2 linked regions of the Homo sapiens genome follow. The protein of the gene in region 1 purifies or fractionates together with the protein of each later gene. This does not show direct contact. Each region holds a gene or a part of one and is shown on either strand. Other genes may lie near its edges.

Region 1 (7,022 bases):
CAGGGTTGATTATTTATTAAATGGAAAACTATCCGATTTAACTAAATTTAAACCCAAAGGATCAATGAGCCCTTTTATTTTTCTATATATGTTAGCCTTTTTTGTTTTTAAATGGAGTGCTTAACTGAATGCCAAAAAGCAGTGTTAGAAATAGCTTTTTAGGATGAAGCCCTAAAAATGTCCTCATTTTTCACAGCTGCTTCTTTTTTCTTACTTTGGGACTTTCAGGTTACGTAAAAGCTCTGAGTAATTGTTTTCCAAAATAATTTGCCTTTCAAGCTTCAATACTAGGTGGAGATCCTGTTCTTAAGTGGGGTGGGGTGTGTGGGGCAGAGAATGCTAGTAGAGTTTACCTAAAAAAAGTTAAGCATGTGGGGGATGTGTCCATAGCTAATAGAATAGATCCTGCTTTACCCATTATTGGATTTAACAATATAATTTAAATCATGGCCGGGCATGGTGGCTCACGCCTGTAATCCCAGCACTTTGGTAGGCTGAGGCGGGCGGATCACAATGTCAGGAGATCGAGACCATCCTGGCTAACGCGGTGAAACCCCGTCTCTACTAAAAATACAAAAAAATTAGCCGGGCGTGGTGGCGAGTGCCTGTAGTCCCAGCTGCTGGGAAGGCTGAGATAGGAGAATGGCGTGAACCTGGGAGGCGGAGCTTGCAGTGAGCTGAGATTGCGCCACTGCACTCCCGCCTGGGCGACAGAGTGAGACTCCATCTCAAAAAAAAAAAAAAAATTTAAATCACGTGGGGAGAGTCTGTTTTAGCCCTTCAGAAAGGGATGTATGGGTTTTTAAATTTTTATTTATTTTAATTTGTTTGATATAGAGTGTTGCTCTATCACCTAGGCTAGAGTGCAGTGGCGCAGTCATAGCTCACTGCAGCCTTGTTGCCCTGGGCTCAAGGGATCCTCCCGCCTCAGCCTCCTGAGTAGCTGGGACCACCAAACCCCGCTAATTTTTTAAGTTTTTTGTGGAGAATGGAGGTCTGTCTTTGTTGCCCAAGCTGGTCTCTCAGTCCTGGCATCAAGCGATCCTGCCTTGGCCTCTCAAAGTTCTAGTTCTGTTTTATAAAAGACTTTTTGGAATACAACCAGTTTGTAATTTGGCTTCCAGAAGACATATGATCAAATCCTTGAAGGTGGTGATCTCCTTGACTTGGATTTGCTGTTGGTGGTCATCTTATTCACAGTTAGGAAACAAAGCCTAGCACTCATGTAGTCAAATCCATGCCCAGCAGTGAACAAAACGAATTGCTTATCATGAAGCACTGTTGTGGATGGGACAGGTAATTACCTCTGGGGAAGGAGTACATAGACCTTTCATTGGGTAAATACTTAGGAGTGGAATTACTGTGTTATATGGTAGGTTTGTGTTTAACTTGATAAGAAACTGCTTAAACCGTCTTCCAAAGTGATTGTATCATTTTATACTTGCACTTTCAGTATTCAGTTAAGGCTAGCTTTAGTTTTTGAAGAGGTGGCTTATAATTTTTTCTTTTTTGAGACAGGGTCTCACTCTGTCTCCGAGGCTAGTGCCACTGCATCTGGCCCTAAGTTCTTGATAATAGTGCATTAGATGGTTGTTCTAATCTATGTTTTTACATAGATAGATAGATAGATAGATAGATAGATAGATAGATAGATAGATATTTTTTTTTTTGAGACGGAGTCTTGCTCTGTCGCCCAGGCTGGAATGCAGTGGCACGATCTTGGCTCACTGCAACCTCCCTGGGTTCAAGCTATTCTCCTCCTTCAGCATTCCAAGTAGCTGGGACTACAGGGGTGTGCCACCACGCCTGGCTAATTTTTTGTATTTTAGTAGAGACAGGGTTTCACCATGTTGGCCAGGCTGGTCTTGAACTCCTGGCCTCAAGTGATCTGCCTGCCTCAGCCTCCCAAAGTGCTGGGATTACAGGTGTGAGCCACCGCACCTGGCCTTGTTTTCTGATATATTAAATTTGAATATTAGTCTTGTAAGACTTATTAAATATCCACGTAGTTTTGATTAAATGTTCATACTTACCAGACATATTTAGGTGTAGAGATCCATTTTTTTCTTGTTGTAGAAATTAAGGCTGGGCACCGTGGCTCATGCCTGTTATCCCAGCACTTTGGGAGGCCGAGGCAGGCAGATCATGAGGTCAAGAGTTCGAGACCAGCCTGACTAACATGGTGAAACTTTGTGTCTACTAAAGATACAAAAAATTAGCCTGACATGGTGGCGCATGCCTGTAATCCCAGCTACTTGGGAGGCTAAGGCAGGAGAATCACTTGAACCCGGGAGGTGGAGGTTGCAGTGAGCCGAAATCGTGCCATTGCACTCCAGCCTGGGCGACAGGGTGAGACTCTGTCTCAAAAAAAAAAAAAAAGAAATTAAAACGTGTTCACTTCTAGTCCATTTATGTACATGTTCCACTTCATTCTGGGCTTGGATTATGTAGGTAATTTAGGTCTCTGGGAAGATCTTTTCTGCTTCGTTTTTTTGCTACTCTTCCTCCTGCCAGTTACTGCATTAAAGATATATAGGATATTACTAATGTTTAAATTTCAGTGTTCTTAGAACAACAATGTTGAGAGGTTTCTGGGTGAAGTTTTTAAAAATATATATATATGTATGTTAAGGCTGGGCATGGTGGCTCACACCTGTAATTCTAGTATTTTGGGAGTGGTAGGATTGCTTGAGGCTAGGAGTTTAAGACCACCCTGGGCAACATATCAAGACCCCCATCTCTAAAAGTAAATAAATAAAAATATGTTAAGCCTTAAACAACTGGAAGTTACACCACACTTATCTAATACAGGTAGTAGGAAATGTGATTTGAGATAGGTTTCATTTCTTTAAGTTATGATTTCTATAAATAGACAACTAAGACGTTTTTAGATAAGGGTTAGTTTATAGCTACCATTTGTTTAATACTTACCAGTGCATAGTGTTAACCTACCTGTTTTCACATTTAATCTTCATAATCTGCTAAGGGGGGTAGCGTCCCCATTTTACAGATAAGGAAAATAAACTTAAGTTAATTTTCCAGGGTCAAACAGAGAGAGCGAAGAGCCTAGAGGTATCTGAGTGCTAGGTTGTGCTGCATTCAATACCCAAAGATAAAATTTTCTGCCTCCGCCTATCCCCCTACCTGTTCCAGAGGCTGTTCAGAAGGAATTCAGATTTCCAAACTCAATTCAGTGTCCATTTGACAAGAAGAAAGAAAAAATGGGGCTGGGTGCAGTGGCTCGCGTCTGTAATCCCAGCACTTTGGGAGGCTGAGGTGGGCAGATCACTGGAGGTCAGGAGTTCGAGACCAGCCTGGGCAATGTGGTGAAATCCCGTCTCTACTCAAAATACAAAACTTAGCCAAGCTTAGTGGCGCTCGCCTGTAGTCTCAGCTACTCAGAAGGCTGAGGCAGGAGAATCACTTGAATCCAGGAGGCAGAGGTTGCAGTGAGCTGAGATTGTTCCACTGCATTTCAGCCTGGGTGACAGAGTGAGACTCGATCTCAAAAAAAAAAAAAAAAAATGGAAATGCTTTTCATACAGTACTCTATGTAAACATCATTTCTTTTTTTCTTTGAGACAGAGTCTTGCTGTGTCGCCCAGGCTGGAGTACAATGGCATCATCTCACCTCACCTCAACCTCCGCCTCCTGGGTTCGAGTGATTCTCCTGCCTCAGTCTCTCGCGTAGCTGAGATTACAGGCGCCCGTCATCACGCCCAGCTAATTTTTGTATTTTTAGTAGAGACGGAGTTTCACAATGTTGATCAGGCTGGTCACAAACTCCTGAACTCAGGTGATCCACCAGTCTCAGCCTCCCAAAGTGCTGGCATTACAGGTGTGAGCCACTGCGCCCAGCCCAAAATATTCCTAGTAAAACAGTATTATTTTGCATTAGGTGTAGATTAGAGTGTACGTTCCCTTAGGGGATTTATCAGAATATTTTGGGAAGGGGCTGTAGTTTGATAAAGCAATTTGTATGTGTAATTTGTCAGGATGTGTAATTTATTTTGGAATATAATAACATGAGAATTTTTTTTTTTTTTTTTTTTTTTTTTTTTTGAGACAGAGTCTCGCTCTGTTGCCCAGGCTGGAGTGCAGTGGCGTGATCTCTGCTCACTGCAAGCTCCGCCTCCTGGGTTCACGCCATTCTCCTGCCTCAGCCTCCCAACTAGGTGGGACCACAGGCGCCCGCCACCACACCTGGCTAATTTTTTGTATTTTTAGTAGAGACGGGGTTTCACCGTGTTAGCCAGGATGGTTTCGATATCCTGACCTGGTGATCTGCCCATCTCGGCCTCCCAAAGTGCTGGGATTACAGGCGTGAGCCACCAAGCCCGGCCCGAGATTTTTTTTTTTTTAATGTGTGAATGAAGTATATAAGTTTATTTAAGAACTTGAATGGTGCCAGGGCTGGTGGCTCACACCTGTAATCCCAGCACTTTGGGAGCCAAGGGAGGAAGGAATGCTTGAGCCCAAAGAATTTGAGGCTGCAGTGAGCTGTGATTGCGCCACTACACTCCAGCCTAGGCAACAACAGAGCGAGAGCCTGTCTCAAAAAAAAGAACTTGAATGGACATTAGTATTGCTCTTAGTTTTTTTTTTTTGTTGCTTTTTTGGTTTTTTTTGTTGTTGTTGTTTATTGTCTTTTTTTTTTTTTTTGAGGCGGAGTCTCGCTCTGTCGCCAGGCTGGAGTGCAGTGGCACAATCTTGGCTCACTGCAACCTCCGCCTCCTGGGTTCAAGCAATTCCCCTGCTTCATCCTCCCGAGTTGCTGGGACTACAGGCACGCGCCACCACACCCAGCTAATTTTTATACTTTTAGTAGAGATGGGGTTTCACCATGTTGGCCAGGATGGCCTTGATCTCTTGACCTCTTGATCCACCCGCCTCAGCCTCCCAAAGTGCTGGGATTACAGGCGTGAGCCACTGCGCCCGGCCTAGTCTTAGTTTTTTAGTTTTTGTTTTTGTTTTTGTTTTTGTTTGTTTGTTTGTTTTTTGAGTTGGAGTCTTGCTCTGTCGCCCAGGCTGGAGTGCAGTGGTGTGATCTCAGCTCACTGCAACCTCCGCCGTCCAGGTTCACGCCATTCTCCTGCCTCAGCCTCCCGAGTAGCTGGGACTACAGCCGCCCGCCACCACACCTGGCTAATTTTTTGTATTTTTAGTAGAGACGGGGTTTCACCGTGTTAGCCAGGATGGTCTTGATCTCCTGACCTCGTGATCCGCCTGCCTCGGCCTCCCAAAGTGCTGGGATTACAGGCGTGAGCCACTGCGCCTGGCCTATTCTTAGTTTTTAGAAGTGGGGTGTCGCTGTGTTGCCCAGGCTGGAATGCAATGGCTATCTTATCAGGTTCTGTCATATTGTTAGCACCCTACGACCTTGAACTCCTGGGCTCGGGTAATCTTCCTGCCTCAGCCTCTGAGTAGCTGGCACTACAGGTGTGTGCCCCACTATGCCCACCTGGGACATTTTTACTTAGGAATTAATACTCTGGTTATGTGTAAAAATTCAAACAATATGGAAGTATATAAAGTAGTTTTTACGTCCCATGATAATCACTGTTAATTTAAAATCAGAGGGAACCACTGTTAATAATTTCAAGCGAGTATTATACATTAGGGAGAAAAGTATAAACATGCCTATGTAATACTTTTTGTTCTACTTGATTTTATTTGCTTAATTTAAAATATATCTTTCTGTATCAATGTATACGATGTATTTCATTTGACCTGTTCAATATTTTTGCTGCCACAACATATATAGTCAACTCAAAATTTAATGCATTGAACAAAATATATCAAGTACTATTTGTGTACATTGAAGTTATGGTTCTTTCACATTATAGCTATCCAGTCAGTTCGCTGCTATTCCCATGGGTCACAGGAGACAGATGAGGAGTTTGATGCTCGCTGGGTAACATACTTCAACAAGCCAGATATAGATGCCTGGGAATTGCGTAAAGGTAATTGGAACATAAACATATTTGTCTATTTTGGTGTGTAAATATGAACTGCTTCTGCTCCTTTATTGAGAGCAACTGTTTCGAAAACATGCGTTGTTTAAACTGGTTACTTCATGCAACTTGCAGTTAGGAAAGTTTATGGCTACCTATAAAGCAGGATTTTAAGGCAGGCACTATTGACATTTTGGGCCAGATAATTCTTTGTTGTAGGGGACTGTCCTTTACACTGTAGGGTGTTTAGCATCACCTTTGGCCTCTACCTGCTAGGAGCCAGTATGCACACATTCGTATCATGACAACCAAAAATGTTTCTAGGCATTACCCAGTGTCTCCTGAGGGATGAAGTCACCCTTAATTGAAAACCACTGCTATAGCAATAAGGCTAGATGAGCAAAAGGTAACAGTTTTGTACATTTCAAACAATTTACATAGCACGGGCGCGGTGGCTCACGCCTGTAATCCCAGCACTTTAGGAGGCCAGGGTGGGCGGATCACGAGGTCAGGAGATCAAGACCATTCTGGCTAACATGGTGAAACCCCGTCTCTACTAAAAATACAAAAAAATTAGCCGGACGTGGTGGCGGGCGCCTGTAGTCACAGCTACTCGGGAGGCTGAGGCAGGAGAATGGCGTGAACCCGGGAGGCAGAGCTTGCAGTGAGCCGAGATCGCGCCACTGCACTCCAGCCTGGGCAACAGAGTGAGACTCTGTCTCAGAAAAAAAAAAAAGAATTTACACAAAGCAGTCATTTGGTTCCCTTCCCCTTTGGGTGATGGTTTGGGTTTTTTGTTATTTTTGCATTGTTTTGCCATGAATAAGTATCTAAGTAAGTTAGAACTTGTCTTTCCTAAATTTGCAGATGCACACTTAACATGAAAAAATAGAATTAGGTGTAGGGTAATTTATCTCATACCAAAAATTCAATCTCAATGACTATCGTATTCACTGGTATCCTTTGTTTAAATATTTTAAAGTAATAAAAGCAAGAAACCTAAGTGCTTTAAACTTCTCTGCAGAAATGTAATGATTCCCTTTTGCTACAACCAATAGAATTCTTACT
Region 2 (7,430 bases), on another chromosome or scaffold:
TCAGTATGGAACATTTTTGCATTTTTATTGGCCACTTGAACAACTTTATGAACTTTGTATTCAATTCCTTTGTCCATTTTCCTACTGGAATGTATACTGGTTTGTAAAAATTCTTTATAACTTAGATACTAACTCTAACTACACTATCTAATTGAGTAGTCACTGTTTACTGAGCACTTAAAACGTGGTTAGTCTGAACTGTGATGTGCTGAAAGTGTAAAATACTCACTGGGTTTTAAAGACAGTACAAAAAGATGATGTAAAATACTTCAATAATTTTGATATTGATTACATGTTGAAATATTTTGAATATACTTAATAAAATAGTATTAAATTTTATATATTTTATTATTAAAATATATAAATTTCGTTATTAAAATTAATTCTAGGATATATTAAAATTAATTCATCTTTAATTTTACTTTTTTTAATGTGGCTATCAGACAACTCAAAATTACAAACAGGGCTCTCATATTTCTTTTAGACAGTTTCTATTTTGCCTTTAAAGGCATTCCTCATTTTTAAGTATTCAAGCAATCCCTCAAGGTTTCCTCCTCTCCTTATGCTTTATAAGCTTTTCCCAGCCACAGGCATTTTAGAAGCATAAACTAAACCTTACTTCTAGACAAATAAAAACAACTGTTTTTAGATTTTCTTTCTCCAAAAGTTCTTCAAATAGTCTTCTCACATGCATCCAATTTAAATAGTACTCTTTTTCTAAATGATTTTTAAATTTTGCCATAATAATGGTTGCCCTTTTAAGAAATGCTTCATTACTGAAACTAAATTTTCACAAAGTTATTTTTAAAAACCTACTAAGCATTTTTAAGTGTAAAAAAAATTTTAATTTTTTGTAGTAATAAACATTCCAAACAACTTTGCAAAGTCATTTTGACCACTAAGGTAGGTAATAATTATCTGTGTTTCACAGACAGATGAGACAAAGAATACATAATTTTCAACATAATGACAGCTACACAGAAGAGGGATTACAAATTACACTGTTTCTTCTCCTTTTTGCCAACACTTAAAGGGCAGTTTAGACTAAATTTAACAGCCACTGTAATTTCAGTGTAAAATGCCAAAATTGCTTGGTCAATAGAAACAATTGTGTTAGAAACTTACTTGGGGATTCTGGAGTACAGTATAAACGTATGATTCATTTTTCTTTTTCTTTTCTTTTTTTTTTTTTGAGACAGGTCTCACTCTGTCACCCAGGCTGGAGTGCACTGGCATGCTCAAGGCTCACTGCAGCCTCAATTTCCTGGGCTCAAGCGATCCTCCCACCTCAGCCTCCTGAGTACAGGCTAGGATTACAGGCGCGCGTCACCAAACCAGGCTAATTTTTTGTAGAGAGGCAGTTTTGCCATGTTGCCCGGGCTGGTCTTGGAACTCCTGGGCTGAAGCGATCCACCCACCTCAGCGTCCTAAGGTTTACAATCTTCCTGAGGATTAGCAGCATGAGCCACTGCACCCAGCCGATGATTCATTCTGTCCATAAGGGAACCTGGCAGTATATTGCCAATATGGAAAAACTCAACAGTTACACTTTTCTATCACTACCAAAAAAGCCCTGGGAATAGTGCTGTTAAAATTTATCCGTTTGAAATTCTAAGATTCAGCTTTACATTTATTGCAAATAAAAGATACGAATATATTCTAATTTATATCCACAGCATAGTTACTATAGCTTATATTACATAAAATCTCGAATGACTGCAACTTCCGACTTCTTTCAGGAGGTCACGAACATGTTACAGGTTTTTTCAAACCTATGTTTTTACAGACAGCTCACTATGTTGCCAAGGCTAGCCTAGAACTATTGGGCTCAAAAGATCTGCCTGCCTCAGTCTCCCGAGTAGCTGGACTACAGGAGCGCACCACCACACCTGGCTTCGAACATGAATGTTTCGGTAAATACTCTCTGCATCCCAAGAATGGAGGGATTAGGTTAAGGGTGGACTTAGTTCTGTCTTCTCCCTCAGAGATCCTATCAGTTCTCAGTGTCAAGCAATGTGTGTCAAGCTACGGCAAAAACGAAGGTAAGCCTGATTAGTTCAATGTTATTTTGGAAACTCTCAAACCATTTAAATTTGAGTCAGAAAAGAATGTTGAGAGAGACGAAAATTCTCTTCAACCACCTTTTTTTCTGGGTTACCACTACAACTGCCACCTTTTCACCAAAAAGACTGCTCAGCCGAACTGAAGAGTTTCTTTGTTTTTCGGACCCAAACTGGGTTCATTCAATGATTGTCGGATACTTTCGTACTTCTTCCAAAAGATCCGTAGTGAGTAGCACCCCTCCTTCCTTTTAGAAAATTTAAGAAAATAAGTTGGGAGAGTAAGAAAAAGAAGGCCAAGAAAATCTCAACCAAGTGCTAAATGAAGGTGCGCTGGAAAGCTCCAAAGACCCTGGAACTTTGCGGAGTCCGCAATTTCCAACCGCGGAGGTGAGTAACCGCGGGACACCGCGATGCGCACGTAACATTTTGTTTGGTACAAAGCGGTAGGCTTCAGAGGTGCAATCCGGCCCGCGAGGTGCCCACAAGTTCCCGCGGGGGCCATGCTAGGGCTGCAGAAGGCATCAGAGTCAGAGACCTGTCAGGACCCCCGCGGGCTGCGCAGGCTGAACTGGAAAGGCGGAGGCCAGAAAGGAAGGTTCTGAGGTTGGCGAAAGGCAAGTGGGCGAATTGCCCCAGGCGAGGCGCCGAGCCCAGCCTGGCCCTCCAGTTCGGCTTCTACGGAGCCAGCGGCCAGCGCGGGACACTCACCCTGGCGGTCGCTGGGATTACAGGCCGCCGCCCTGCATCGCAGACGGAGCCGGCACAGGGAGGACCAGCTACATCTGTGGGCCGCGGCGGCGGCCAAGCCGGGTAACATCCTGGTGGGGCAGAGGCCCCTACTCGGACACCGCCTTCTGCCTCCGCGCCGCCACCGGTACCAACTGACTCCATAGACTGGACATCAGCGAACACCGATGGCTTCGCCGCCACAAGCTGCCTGGGTGACCCGGAAACGGCAACGTCATTTAGCGACGCCTGCCGTGGAGGTAGCGGAAGTGACGTAACACGTTGAGCACCAATAGGGAGGCCTTCCTTCCCGGGGACCCAGACTCCCAAAGTGGGGAGGGCGTGGCTGCAGGGGAAGTTTGGTGTCTGCCGTCTTCTTTTGCACCTGTACTTTTGCGCTTGGTTGGAAATCACGTAAACTGTTTACATCTTGTTCAGCCAGGAAAGCTGTCCTTTGGGAGTTCTACTTATTCCTTTTTTTCTGGACTCGAAACCGGGGCCGTGGTTTCGGAAATGGGAGGAAAGATGGGAAGGATGGACGCAGGTTTTCTGAGCCTCTCTACCTAGAGCCTGCCAGGATAAACCCAAATTAGAACCAACATGTCCAGTACTCTCCGAACGTCTGCCACGTACATCGTTCTCCTTGTTAACACCAGTGTGTATCCAGTATCATAAAGGCAAGTACACACTTCGGAATCAGCTACTTGCCCTACTAATCTGTGAACCTCAGATTTTTGCCTGCAATATAAGAGGTTTTATGTTCATGACAAGTTAGGGTAAACGGAGGTATGCAGACTTCGAAACATTTTGGTCCCAGGGAGAAAGAAACCTGAACAGTATCCACGTTAACTGTTTCTCTCTGCCATGCTCATTCAGCTCTTAACTCAAACTCAAGAGAGGCCTTCCTTGACCACCCTAGCTATGGTAGTCCTGGTCATTCTCTACCCGGCTGTCCTATATACTTTTCTTCAAAACGCTTATCACTATTTGAGATTTTTTTTTCTATTTTGTGTCCTAGAATAGAAAATAAGCATCATGATGCTGGAATCTTGTCTATTTTGTACATGGCTGTATAAAGCCGCTAAAACAATGCCTGGCAAAAATAAATTGAATGGAATGTATGGTGGTTTGTTTTAAAGTTAATCTGAGTCGCTTATCTATATTACTGCAAAATAACTATCTCGGGGAAATTTAGTATGTCCTTAATTTTTAAAAAAATCAACAAGTCTCTTATACTAATTGAGATAAGTATAACCAAATGAGGAAAGAGATTATCGTTAAGAATGGTAAGCAAATTTAATTTCCTATGACAAACATAACTTAAAATATTCAGTGGACAAACATTAAAAAATGATGTCCCATAAATGTAGGCTCAATATTACTAAAAAATCTGAATATTACTGGAAAGTTACTTTCCCTTTCTTGTAATAGATTTTAATAGAAATTCAACTTTATGAAGTAAAAATACATAAAGGCTTACCTCTTATTTTATGGTAACTATGCAAACATCTATTAACTTTTATGGATAATTCTTTTTGAACAAAACTAATCTCATATTTTGGATTCTTAAAATGGCTTTGGTTTCAACTCGTTTTAGGCAAGCCTGATCAAAACTTCTCAGGTTTTATTTTTAATTTGTGCGATAGGATTATTATTTTTATTTTGTTTAGCTGTACTAATCATTTTTAGAAGAAAATGTTCCTTTCTTGATAAAACTTTTAAAAAAAATACATTTTGTGCAGAGTTCTTAATTTCCATAACAGCCCACCTGATGTGTAAAATATGTTGGTGCACAGTAAAATTTCACAGTGTGTGCTTTCCTGTCCTTCTTTTTCCTGGTATAGTTGGGGTGTAACTTGACTTAGACACTACTAATTGTTATAAACCTCCAGTACCCTTGATTTGCCAAATAAGTTTGAAGAACAAAGTGTATCATTTTCTGTTACCTTAACTCTCACAATGCTGTATCACATAATAAAGCCTCAACAGACTTGGATTAAAATAACTCTGCAGTTGTCTTGGTATTTATACCTACATATCATGATATACTTATCCTTTTGGAAAGTCTTTGAAACTTCCCCAAGTGCTAAAACTTAAGATAATGTCAGTTTTAGAGTTCCTTAGGGGAATTTCCTTTGACCCTAAATCCCATCCTTACCAAGAGACTTTGTTTTTATGCTCCATTTGAGACACATTCAGCGTTGCCTACCTATACATAACAGGTAAGATTCTAGTATCATAGGGCTTATTTTCTATTGGAAGAGGCAGCAAATTTATAAATAAATATATTGATAATTTAAAACTAATAGCAGCAGTAGTAATATTAATCATTTACTAATTGCCAGGCCCTCTGTGTACACTGTCTCATTCATAATACCTTAAATAAGTTATAGGTAGACGAAGAAACCAAGGCACAAAGATCTTGATCTTAAACACCACTCTTTCTAAGTCAATGGGTACTTGCCTTTGGAAGAAAATGTGATGTCTTCTCAAAAGACTTGAATGATAATATGGTGTTCCTATTTTTTTTTTCCTGGAATGTAGGTTAAGAGAGAATTTCCCCAGATATTTTTTACTCATGTGATCAACATGGTATAAAATTGTCCAAGTTTCATGAGGATACATGATATAAATAGATGCCTAAATATAGGGAACTATTAAGTCAGATAGATAGAAACAGAAGTAGGAAAGGAGTGAAGTGTCATTTGATTATTACCATACACCATAATTCCTGCAAGGTTTTCCATTAACTCTGAAGAAGTTCCAACATCTTTCAGAAATTTGCTTGTGCAATTGAGCTAACTACTATTGCTTGGTTTCATCCTGTCTATAGCTTTGGGAAAATAACTCTGATCTTGAGACAAACTTGACTGGTTATCTGGAAAACTGACTTAGATAATCCATTACAAAATAAAGTAAGTGGCTCTATCATGAGGCTTACCAAAAACACAAATTTAATTTTGAACACAGACATACTTGTTGTCATCACGTTTTGGCGATTTTTTTTTTCTTTGCCTCTAGGAGTGGGGGAGGAGGGAGCTTGCCCACCTGAACACTTCAATAAGAAAATGGCCCAGCCTGGCCAACATGGCAAAACTTTTTCTCTACTAAAAATACAAAAATTAACTGAGAGTGGTGGTGCACACCTGTAATCCCAGCTACTCGGGAGGCTGAGGAATAAGAATCACTTGAACCCAGAAAGTGGGGGTTGCAGCGAAACGAGATTATACCACTGCACTACAACCTGGGCAACAAAGTGAGACTCTGTCTTGAAAAAAAAAGAAGCAAGAAAGAAAATGGCTTATAGCCAGGTGCTAGTGGCTCATGCCTGTAATGCCAGCACTTTGGGAGGTTAAGGCAAGAGGCCAGAAGTTCAAGACCAGCCTGGGCAACACGATAAGATCCCATCTGTACCAAAAAAAAACAAACAGAAAACAAAACTGGCTTATACATGGGTAAAAAGAATTACCTGGTCACACCCCCTCTCCTGTACAACAATGGTCAGAAGCAATAAGGGTCTGCACAGACACATTTGGCCTGTAAAGGCAAACATGCAAAAGAAATGAAACATGCACTTGATGTGGTTTCTGACCAGGTCTGACCAGGTTGCTAATCCTCGTCTCCATTTTTCAGAGAGGTGAAAGGTTTTTTCTACAGTTCACTTAGCAAGAATGTCACAGAAGATGGAATCAGACTCAGGTCCTCTAACTCCAAATCAGTTTACATGGTTGAGTGAGCATTGCAGAGGAGGAGAGAAGGAAGGAGTGGCTTGTTCTTACAGGTTTTCCCTCTGACATTATCCTATGAAATTACTTGTGGGATTTTTTTTGTCACAATTATCTTGTCAAATAGCCATTTAGTAGTCCACTACCATTAAACTTACGTTCACTCTTTGCCACTTCCATCCAAGAAAAGGAGAATGATTTCTCCAATGATAACTGTATTCCTGGATCATAGCTCTCTTATTCAACACTTCTTAGCTTCTCCAATAAAAGCTCCTTCTCTGCAATTTACCTGGTATGGTGGAGAAAAAATTACACATACACACACTTTTCCTTAGAGGGTAGTGAACAAGATTCATATTACAGCTGGAATAATTGAGTTATTAAATACTCCTGGAGGCAAGAGACTGACTGTTTGATAACCTTTATCCTTGAGAAGAATTAAGCTGAGACAGAGCATGGAGGTGTAATATTTTTAGAGAGGGCAGCATTTGTGAAGAGTCAATTCCTTCCCCAAAGCCACAGGTGGGGGCAGCAAGAGAAAGTCTTACTAGGTTTTTTAAAATTTAACTTTTTATTGAAGTATAATACACACAAGACATATATTAAGGGCATAGCTCTAACAATTATCACTAGTGAACAAAAACTGTGTAGCCAGTACCCCGCTATAGAGAGGATGCACCTGACAGCAGTAACAACCATATCCTGAGAACGACCCTGTGATCTAAAACGAATGTGTGCTCAGAATCCCAAACTAAGGAAACAGGAGCGACTAACCCTGAGTTTCACTCCTTATCTATGAAGGACGTCTGAACCCCCAGCCCATCCCTTACAACACAGGCAATATAGGGGATCAAGGTCCTTTGCTTTGGGTTAAATGGAGGTTGCTAGGTGGAGTGTGCTAAATGAAAATGCTATA

The links. Proteins that work in one complex are often made in the same cells at the same time.
Region 2: the proteins of COX5A (region 1) and SLC30A9 purify together in Homo sapiens (affinity purification with mass spectrometry; 3 studies listed by BioGRID and IntAct, with this or other methods). This does not show direct contact.

The regions. Positions count from the first base shown.
Region 1 is NC_000015.10:74,928,057-74,935,078, reverse strand, and holds part of COX5A (cytochrome c oxidase subunit 5A, mitochondrial precursor), read left to right. Parts: intron 1-5,846; coding exon 5,847-5,963; intron 5,964-7,022. UniProt on the Homo sapiens protein: Component of the cytochrome c oxidase, the last enzyme in the mitochondrial electron transport chain which drives oxidative phosphorylation.
Region 2 is NC_000004.12:41,986,102-41,993,531, reverse strand, and holds the start of SLC30A9 (proton-coupled zinc antiporter SLC30A9, mitochondrial), read right to left. Parts: upstream 3,003-7,430; 5' UTR 2,881-3,002; coding exon 2,772-2,880; intron 1-2,771. UniProt on the Homo sapiens protein: Mitochondrial proton-coupled zinc ion antiporter mediating the export of zinc from the mitochondria and involved in zinc homeostasis, zinc mobilization as well as mitochondrial morphology and health.